Homo sapiens: one gene and its partner. The protein of the gene in region 1 purifies or fractionates together with the protein of each later gene. This does not show direct contact. Each region holds a gene or a part of one and is shown in the gene's direction. Other genes may lie near its edges.

Region 1 (3,825 bases):
GCACAGTTCTAACAGCAACCAGAGAGGCAGCAGAGCATAGTTTTACGAATTCAGCCCCTGGGGTCAGGCTGAATGTGAATACAGGCTCAGCGCTTCATGTCTTCTCAGTCATTTACTCCTCCGAGCAATCCCAAGGTGCTAGAGTTCTCATTGGACAGACGAGCAAACTGACACGCAGAGAGGTCCGTTAATGTGCATGAGGCTAGTTTGGTGCCTGGGTGGCCTGACCCTGGCCCTCTGTATCCGGAGTCCCCTCAGTCTGGTGCTGCCTCTTTCTGGCCTCCACACATCCACTACGAGTTTGCTTAAAAACTTCTGGCCTGTCTTTGAGGAGCGATAAGTTTGAACATGTTGCTATTAATTTTTGCATGAATTCAACAAGTGTGTTATTAGCCTTCAGGAATGCAACAGGACGGAAATAGTCCCTGCCCCAAAGCACCTGTTCCTTCCAGATGCAAAGCAGGAGTCAAGTCGGGACTGGAGGATGTTAGGTTGTGACTAATGAAAAGGCTGCCCCTGGCCTTTAAAAAGTTGAGGTGGAATTCACATGCCACGAAATTCACCATTTTAGAGGGTACAAGCCAGTGGGTTTTAGTCTATTCACAAAGTTGTGCAACCATCACACCTATCTCATTCCTGAATATTTTTTCTCTCCCCAAGAGGATACCCTCTATCCACTAAGCAGTCACTTCCCATTTCCGCCTCACCCCAATAACCCCTAATTAGATCCTGAGTGACCCCTGGGTAACCACCAATCTACTTTCTGTCTCTGTGATTTGCCTGCTTTGGCCATTTCATAGACATGGAATCATACACTCTGTGGTCTTTCCTGTCTGGTGTAACTCACGTGGCATCGTGTTTTCCAAGCTCACCCTTGTTGCTGCCTAAGTTGGCACTTCCTTGTCACGGCTGAGTGGCACTCCTTTGTATGGATTGGCACATCACGTCTACTCATTCATCAGCTGATGATCAGGTCCTGGCCTTTCAAACTGTTTCTGCGAAGTCATCCTGTTAAAAAATATTTTGATATGGTCAGACCTTTGGTCATAGACTTACTAAGGATTCCAACCTATTCTGCCTGAATGATTTTATGACAAAATCCTTCTGCATCATTTAAGCAACACTTCCACTGCAATATTGGGTGGTTGTCAAATTGTCCCATTTCTGGAAACGACTCTGTCTCAAGACCTTAAGTTGGCTGAAGGGTTCTCACTCACCACACTCAGGTGTAGCCATACAGGCTCCTAACCAGAGTCTATATGTATTCTTTGGAACATTCTGTCTCTTCTTTCTCTCTCTCTTTCTCTTTTTTTTTTTTTTTTTTTTTGAGACAGAGTCTCACTCTGTTACCTAGGCTGGAGTGCAATGCGGTCATCTCGGCTCACTGCAACCTCCGCACCCCGGGTTCAAGCGATTCTTCCGCTTCAGCTTCCCAAGTAGCTGGGATTACAGGTGCTCACTCTACCCCCACGCCCAGTCAATTTTTGTGTTTTTAGTAGAGACAGGCTTTCACCATGTTGGCCAGCAGGCGGGTCTCGAACTCTTGATCACATGATCCCCCCTCCTCAGCCTCCTAAAATGCTGGGATTCCAGGCATGAGCCACCAGCATGAGCCACCGTGCCTGGTCTCTCTCTCTCTCTCTTTTTTTTTTTTTTTTTTTTTTTTACTATTATTGTTTTTATTATTTAATAGCTGGGCTCATAGTACCATTTCCTACTTATTTTTTTCCCTCTCTGAATTGTTGAGTCTGGCTCTGCTGCCATTTGATGTAATTCCTGGAGACTTAGCTTCATTTCAGGCTTTTGCTAACATGTGTCTTCTTTTTTTTTTTTCCACTGTTTTAAGGTCATTTATTAGAACACAGTCATTCAGAAGCCACTGAGACATCAGGCAGCAGGAAGGAAGGTGGGGTGGAGCAGGCCCTGTGAAGGACCAAGGACAAAGTAATAGCCTCAGTTATGAAATTTCATTTTATTCTGATAAAGACTAATGTATGCCTGATAACCTAGTGATAATCCACAAGTTTGGTAGTTCACAACATTTTTAGAAAGCACGTACGATTAACATTTAAATAAGGCATTATAGAAAGTTTTATAAAGAATGAAGTGTGTACTATAATTCTTTTAAGAAACTTTGGTTCATCTTGAAAGATCAATGAATTTTTAAAATATCAGAAGAAAAGGAAAATAAATTTTTTTCCCCAAAAATACATAAGAACTGCTTACTGGCACTTGTATTTTAAGTACCTGGGGAAAAAATGGAAAAGATTTTTAAAGGCAATTAATAACAGCTTGTACGAGGGCTTGTTTCATTTGTTCTGGCACCAAGTAAAGAGTAAATACGCCATGGAAGACGCCATCAGGTTTTCCGTCCACCTCTCCTACTGCCCCACTTCTCCCAGACCACACAGCACATCAGCAGCCATCCTTGCTGCCCCACTCAGGAATCACTTTAGATTCCAATTTTCTTTGTTTGTTTGTTTTTGTTTTTTGTTTTTTTTTTTTGAGACAGAGTCTCGCTCTGCCCCCCAGGCTGGAGTGCGGTGGCACGATCTAGGCTCACTGCAACATCCACCTTCCGGGTTCAAGTGATTCCCCTGCCTCAGCCTCCTGATTAGCTGGGGCTACAGGCGCGCCATCCAGCCCGAGTAATTTTTTGTATTTTAGTAGAGACGGGGTTTCACCATGTTGGCCAGGATAGTCTCGATCTCCTGACCTCATGATCCACCCGCCTCGGCCTCCCAGAGTGCTGGGATTATAGGCGTGAGCCACCACGCCCGGCCTAGATTCCAGTTTTTAAATGGCTTCTCAGATGACACCAACAGAGTTCTTTCCCTTTAAAATAAGGTGGCAGTGAATGCTAACAGGTATCGATTTCTTGGATCAGGAACAAAGAACTCCTTCAGGAAACTCACTTACTGGTCCTGGTTAACCTATTGTGTAAAGTCTTTTTATTGGCACACCTGTTTACTAATTATGATTGATTGCTATTTATGCCAAGGGAGCGTTTCCCAGGCATATCTCATCTATTTACTAACGACAAAGTGTGCTTACTTTATTTACATAGTGCCACAGGTTTTCTCTTTTCTCTCTTTTTTTTTTTTGGCAGGGAGTGGCACTATAACTTGTTATTTATCAGGGCGGATCATACATTTGGATCAAAAAGAGGAACCGGCAAGTAGATCCTAAAACACATTTCTCAACCTGAGTCACATCTGAAAACATATAGATTTTAATTACATTTTGTTGAAAATTCATTCAACTTCGGTGCTTGTCCAAGAACTTATAATGTTAATTTCTGACATAAATCATAACCCTCAGTACATATGTATTTTCAAAGGAAACAAGTCATCTTAAAGTAATATTTTTCTATATGCGAATGGATACATTGTTGTAGCAAATTGAAAATTCTGAGTAAACTGAAAGTATGCTTAACAACAAAATAAATACAGCATATATGGTTAGCATACACATTTCTTAGTAGCAGAGGATTTGTGTCTTACAACAAATCTGTAAACCCACTTGCTTTCTTTCTGGTATTTTATATAGTGTCTCCCCATGTTCCACAACGCTGGAGATGTCTTTTGTGGCATCGATCTGTGCAAACATTTCTGATCACATATTTTCCCCCAATGACATGTAACTTTTTTTTAACTTTTCCGGGAAAATACGGAAGCTTTATCAACCACTTATTAACTGAACAAAAACTTAGATTACTACCAAATGCTCTTTTAATTTTGCTCCAACAGATGTTTTAAAAGTTCAGACATCACTGATGTTTTTGAGGATAGCTGCGTAAAACACACTAGATGATTTCAAAGGATG
Region 2 (3,825 bases), on another chromosome or scaffold:
GTTAAGAAGGAAAGAAACTAAGAAAGTATTTGAGGTCCTAGGTGAGCCCAAGGCACAAGGCAGATGCAGAAGATCCTCAGGTCTTTGTATCTTCGATCACCCACATAATGTTGCAGTAATAATGGTTGAAACAAAAAGAGGTTTCATGTTAAGTGAACTAAAAATTCTGTTAGCGGCCGAGTGTGGTGGCTCACACCTGTAATCCCAGCACTTTGGGAGGCTGAGGCGGGCAGATCACGAGGTCAGGAATTCACACCAGCCTGGTCAACATGGTGAAACCCCGTCTCTACTAAACATACAAAAAATTAGCCAGGCATGGTGGCATGCACCCGTAGTCCCAGCTACTCAGGAGGCTGAGGCAGGAGAATCGCTTGAACCCGGGAGGTGGAGGTTGCAGTGAGCCAAGACTGAGCCCCTGCACTCCAGCCTGAGCGACAGAGCGAGACTCTGTCTCAAAAAAAAAAAAAAAATCTGTTCGCCTCGTAACCATACTAGTCATCATCCTCAGTAATTGCGATGTTACCCCAGGGACCCAGATGGTCCTCTGGGTTCCCTGGGCTCTTGAATATATCAACAACATTCACATTTAGGAGGACTGCAACTGCTTCATTTTGTGCTGACTGCTGTAACCCTGTAGGTATATTTCTATAATAAGATATGACCATCAGTTGTCGTAATATCTACTGAAGTGTCTCAAATATGTATATATTTTAGATGTATTAAATAACACTATCTTTGGCTTAGCAGGTTTTTCAGATTTGTACATTATTGGGCAAATGTTATTGTATATCCTAATTATTATTGTTAATTATTAATTAATTATTGTTAATGTCTCTGAAAATGAATGGTAGCTTAAGCTATTTTGCCAGAATATTCAGACCTGAGAGTTTTGGTGTACTTTTTCCTGTGAAATATTATGGTTTGTACTTAGTTGAAGGAACAGAGTGTAAGCAATTTACTTACCTTTGGGGGCAGGATGTTGAGAAAGAACTGGAGATGCAGATCAGCATGAGGCAGGAGATGGAATTGGCTATGAAGATGCTGGAGAAGGATGTCTGTGAGAAGCAGGATGCCCTGGTATCTCTTCGGCAGCAGCTGGATGACCTCAGAGCTCTCAAGCATGAACTTGCCTTTAAGCTGCAGGTAGGGGAAATATGAGGAATAGACTCACTGGCTCTCTAAAATCCTGGGGCTTCCCTCCTCCCATCTGATCCTCCAGAATCACACTTTAATTACAAGAGGAAAGAATCACATCTCATTTTGATGCTAGCTGCCAGTAAACTACTTTCAGAATCAGACAACCATGGGATCCTGTATTGCTGTTCTAGAAAACCATGGCCACTTTTCACATTATAGTAGAGGATGAGGGTCTTTTTTATCCTATAGGGTAATTTCTACTCTGCAGTCTACCGTGCCAGCTAAGTTATATATTCTATTAGCTTTTACACTGGAATGTGATACATTGATGAACTATTACTGTGATCACACTGCATATAACAATACTAACTTTAGATAAATTGCTTTTTTTTCCATTTCAGGATTAACTGATATTGAAATATATGAACATTTCTGTTTTCCCACTTACCATTAGATTCAAAAGGCATGTGTGGTTGTATTTTAGGATTTATGTTATACAGGTTGTTTATCGTTATTTTCCATAACAGAGTTCAGACTTAGGAGTAAAACAGAAAAGTGAACTAAACAGTCGCTTGGAAGAGAAGACTAATCAGATGGCTGCTACCATTAAACAACTTGAACAAAGGTAAAAGTCCTGTTTCTTTAATGAAACACTTTGGATTGTCAGTGCTGAAGTGAAAAGAATGTGCTGTACATTCGGCAAATAGAAAATACATGAAATTCTTCCAAATTAGCATCAGACATTCTGGTAGAAAAAAGCCAGTTGAATGTTATGTGTGTTTTCTAAGGTATGACTGAAATGTTTTTAGGAAATGTCAATCACTTGACTAGCCTTTAAAAAAAAAAAAGAAAGGTCAGCCTTTTATGACTGTTTTGAACATCAGAACTCTTAATCCATGTCAGAGTCATGTGTTAGAGGAAGGATACTTAAAAGCATGGAAGGACTCTTAAATGTATGTATGTAATTCTGTGATTTTATTGTTCATCACTGAAGTCTTTGAATACTTGGATGCTAGGGGATATAGAGGCACTGAGAGATAGGTGTCCTCCAAGGATCTATTCTGGATCTTTCTCTCCCTTCTTTAACCCTTTTCTCTTATCTCCCTTTTCTTTCTCCTGGGTAGTTCTGTAGCTTCCACTGTCACCTCCAGTGTGTTTTCCCAGCTCTTACCTTCATCTGGAGACCAGTCTTGAGTTTTCATCCTTTGGGCAGCTATCTTCCACCAGTATCTACAATTCAGTCTGCCCAAAGCACATCTTCTTCCTATGCTACTCTCTTTCTGTGCTTATGTGAAACCACCATTTTCTCTCTGGCAACTTAGCAGCCAAGAGAAATGGCTGAGTCTTCAAGGATGAATGTGACGTGGTACCCAAGGTCATTTGATGTTTCTACCCTTAACACCTGTTTGTCACCCTTCTTGCACTTGAGCAAAACTAAACTGCTGGTCCCTGTACTTCCCATTTTTCCCATTTATTTCTTTCCCAATAGTTCCACCAATTAGAAATGTCCTAATTCTTCCCACTCCCTTATTCGTCAGATACATTTTTAAGTTTAGGCTCAAATGCCACCTCCCCAGAGTTTCCTCTGATACCTCTTTGCAGCTAGAAATGATCTGTCTTTCTGGGAACTCCCATAGCTTCATACTCATATCTATCTATACTGCTTATGGCACTTCTCACTGTCTACTGTACCTTTTAACTCTTTATATATGTCTCCTCCGATGCGAGTGTAAGCTCCCTGAGATTAGTTAACGAATCTTTTAAGTTCCCGTATTAGATCTGTCGCAGTGCCTTGAATATACAAGCATTCATTCAGTAGATATATGAATGAATGGATTAATGGGTGATTTCTTATATTCAGATGATTCTTAACCAGTAAGGGTCCTGAACAGCAGTGCATATTAATGTTAACTCAAAACTTAATGGCAAATTTATAAATAAACCTGAAACCTCTTACATAGCCAAATACAAATGTATCAGTCTACCTAGGAAAGATGGTTAGGTACTTGCTCATAAACAGTTATATGTTTATGATTTAACAAAATGATTTTACTGTTCATAAATTGTGCTTTTGAAATGAAATGTATCAAATTTCTTTTCAATGATGTTTTGACTTGGAATTTAAAGCAAACAGAAAGAGAATAATGACTTATCTCTTTGAGTATTAAGCTGACTTATTCTCTTGCTATTTTTGTGTTTCCTGTTTATCCATTTTCTCATTCTCCTTTCACTTCATTGTCATTTTTATTTTATTTAGTGAAAAGGATTTGGTGAAACAGGCAAAGACCTTAAATAGTGCAGCAAATAAACTGATCCCAAAACATCATTAGGCATTTTTAAGTTGGTCACGTCGCAAGTCCGATATCACAACTTAATTGTAAAAGGAAGAAATCTGAAAGTTACTACATTTAAGCTCTGATTCTATATAAAATGTCACCAAAAAGTTGACTTTGAATTTGTTGGACTTTTAAAAAACCAGTTGGAAATATAGGTTGGGTTTTTTTCTTATTGTTTTCTCCCCAGGGTTAGAAAAATTGGTATAAGTTCCTAATTAAAAGCTGAATAAACTTTGAGAAATTATTTCTGAGTTGACCAATAAATAAAAATACCACTTTCTTTAAAAAAGCCTAGGGAATTGAAGCTCTGTACATATACTAATGATGCCTTTACAACCCAGTCCTTGATAAT

Evidence for each region.
Region 2: the proteins of GLT1D1 (region 1) and RUFY3 purify together in Homo sapiens (affinity purification with mass spectrometry; 2 studies listed by BioGRID and IntAct, with this or other methods). This does not show direct contact.

What each region holds. Positions count from the first base shown.
Region 1 is NC_000012.12:128,940,264-128,944,088, forward strand, and holds part of GLT1D1 (glycosyltransferase 1 domain-containing protein 1 isoform 2 precursor), read left to right. Parts: intron 1-3,825.
Region 2 is NC_000004.12:70,787,831-70,791,655, forward strand, and holds part of RUFY3 (protein RUFY3), read left to right. Parts: intron 1-975; coding exon 976-1,143; intron 1,144-1,664; coding exon 1,665-1,762; coding exon of another isoform or gene 1,763-1,766; exon of another isoform or gene 1,767-2,067; intron 2,068-3,394; coding exon of another isoform or gene 3,395-3,467; exon of another isoform or gene 3,468-3,825. UniProt on the Homo sapiens protein: ARL8 effector that promotes the coupling of endolysosomes to dynein-dynactin for retrograde transport along microtubules. Acts by binding both GTP-bound ARL8 and dynein-dynactin.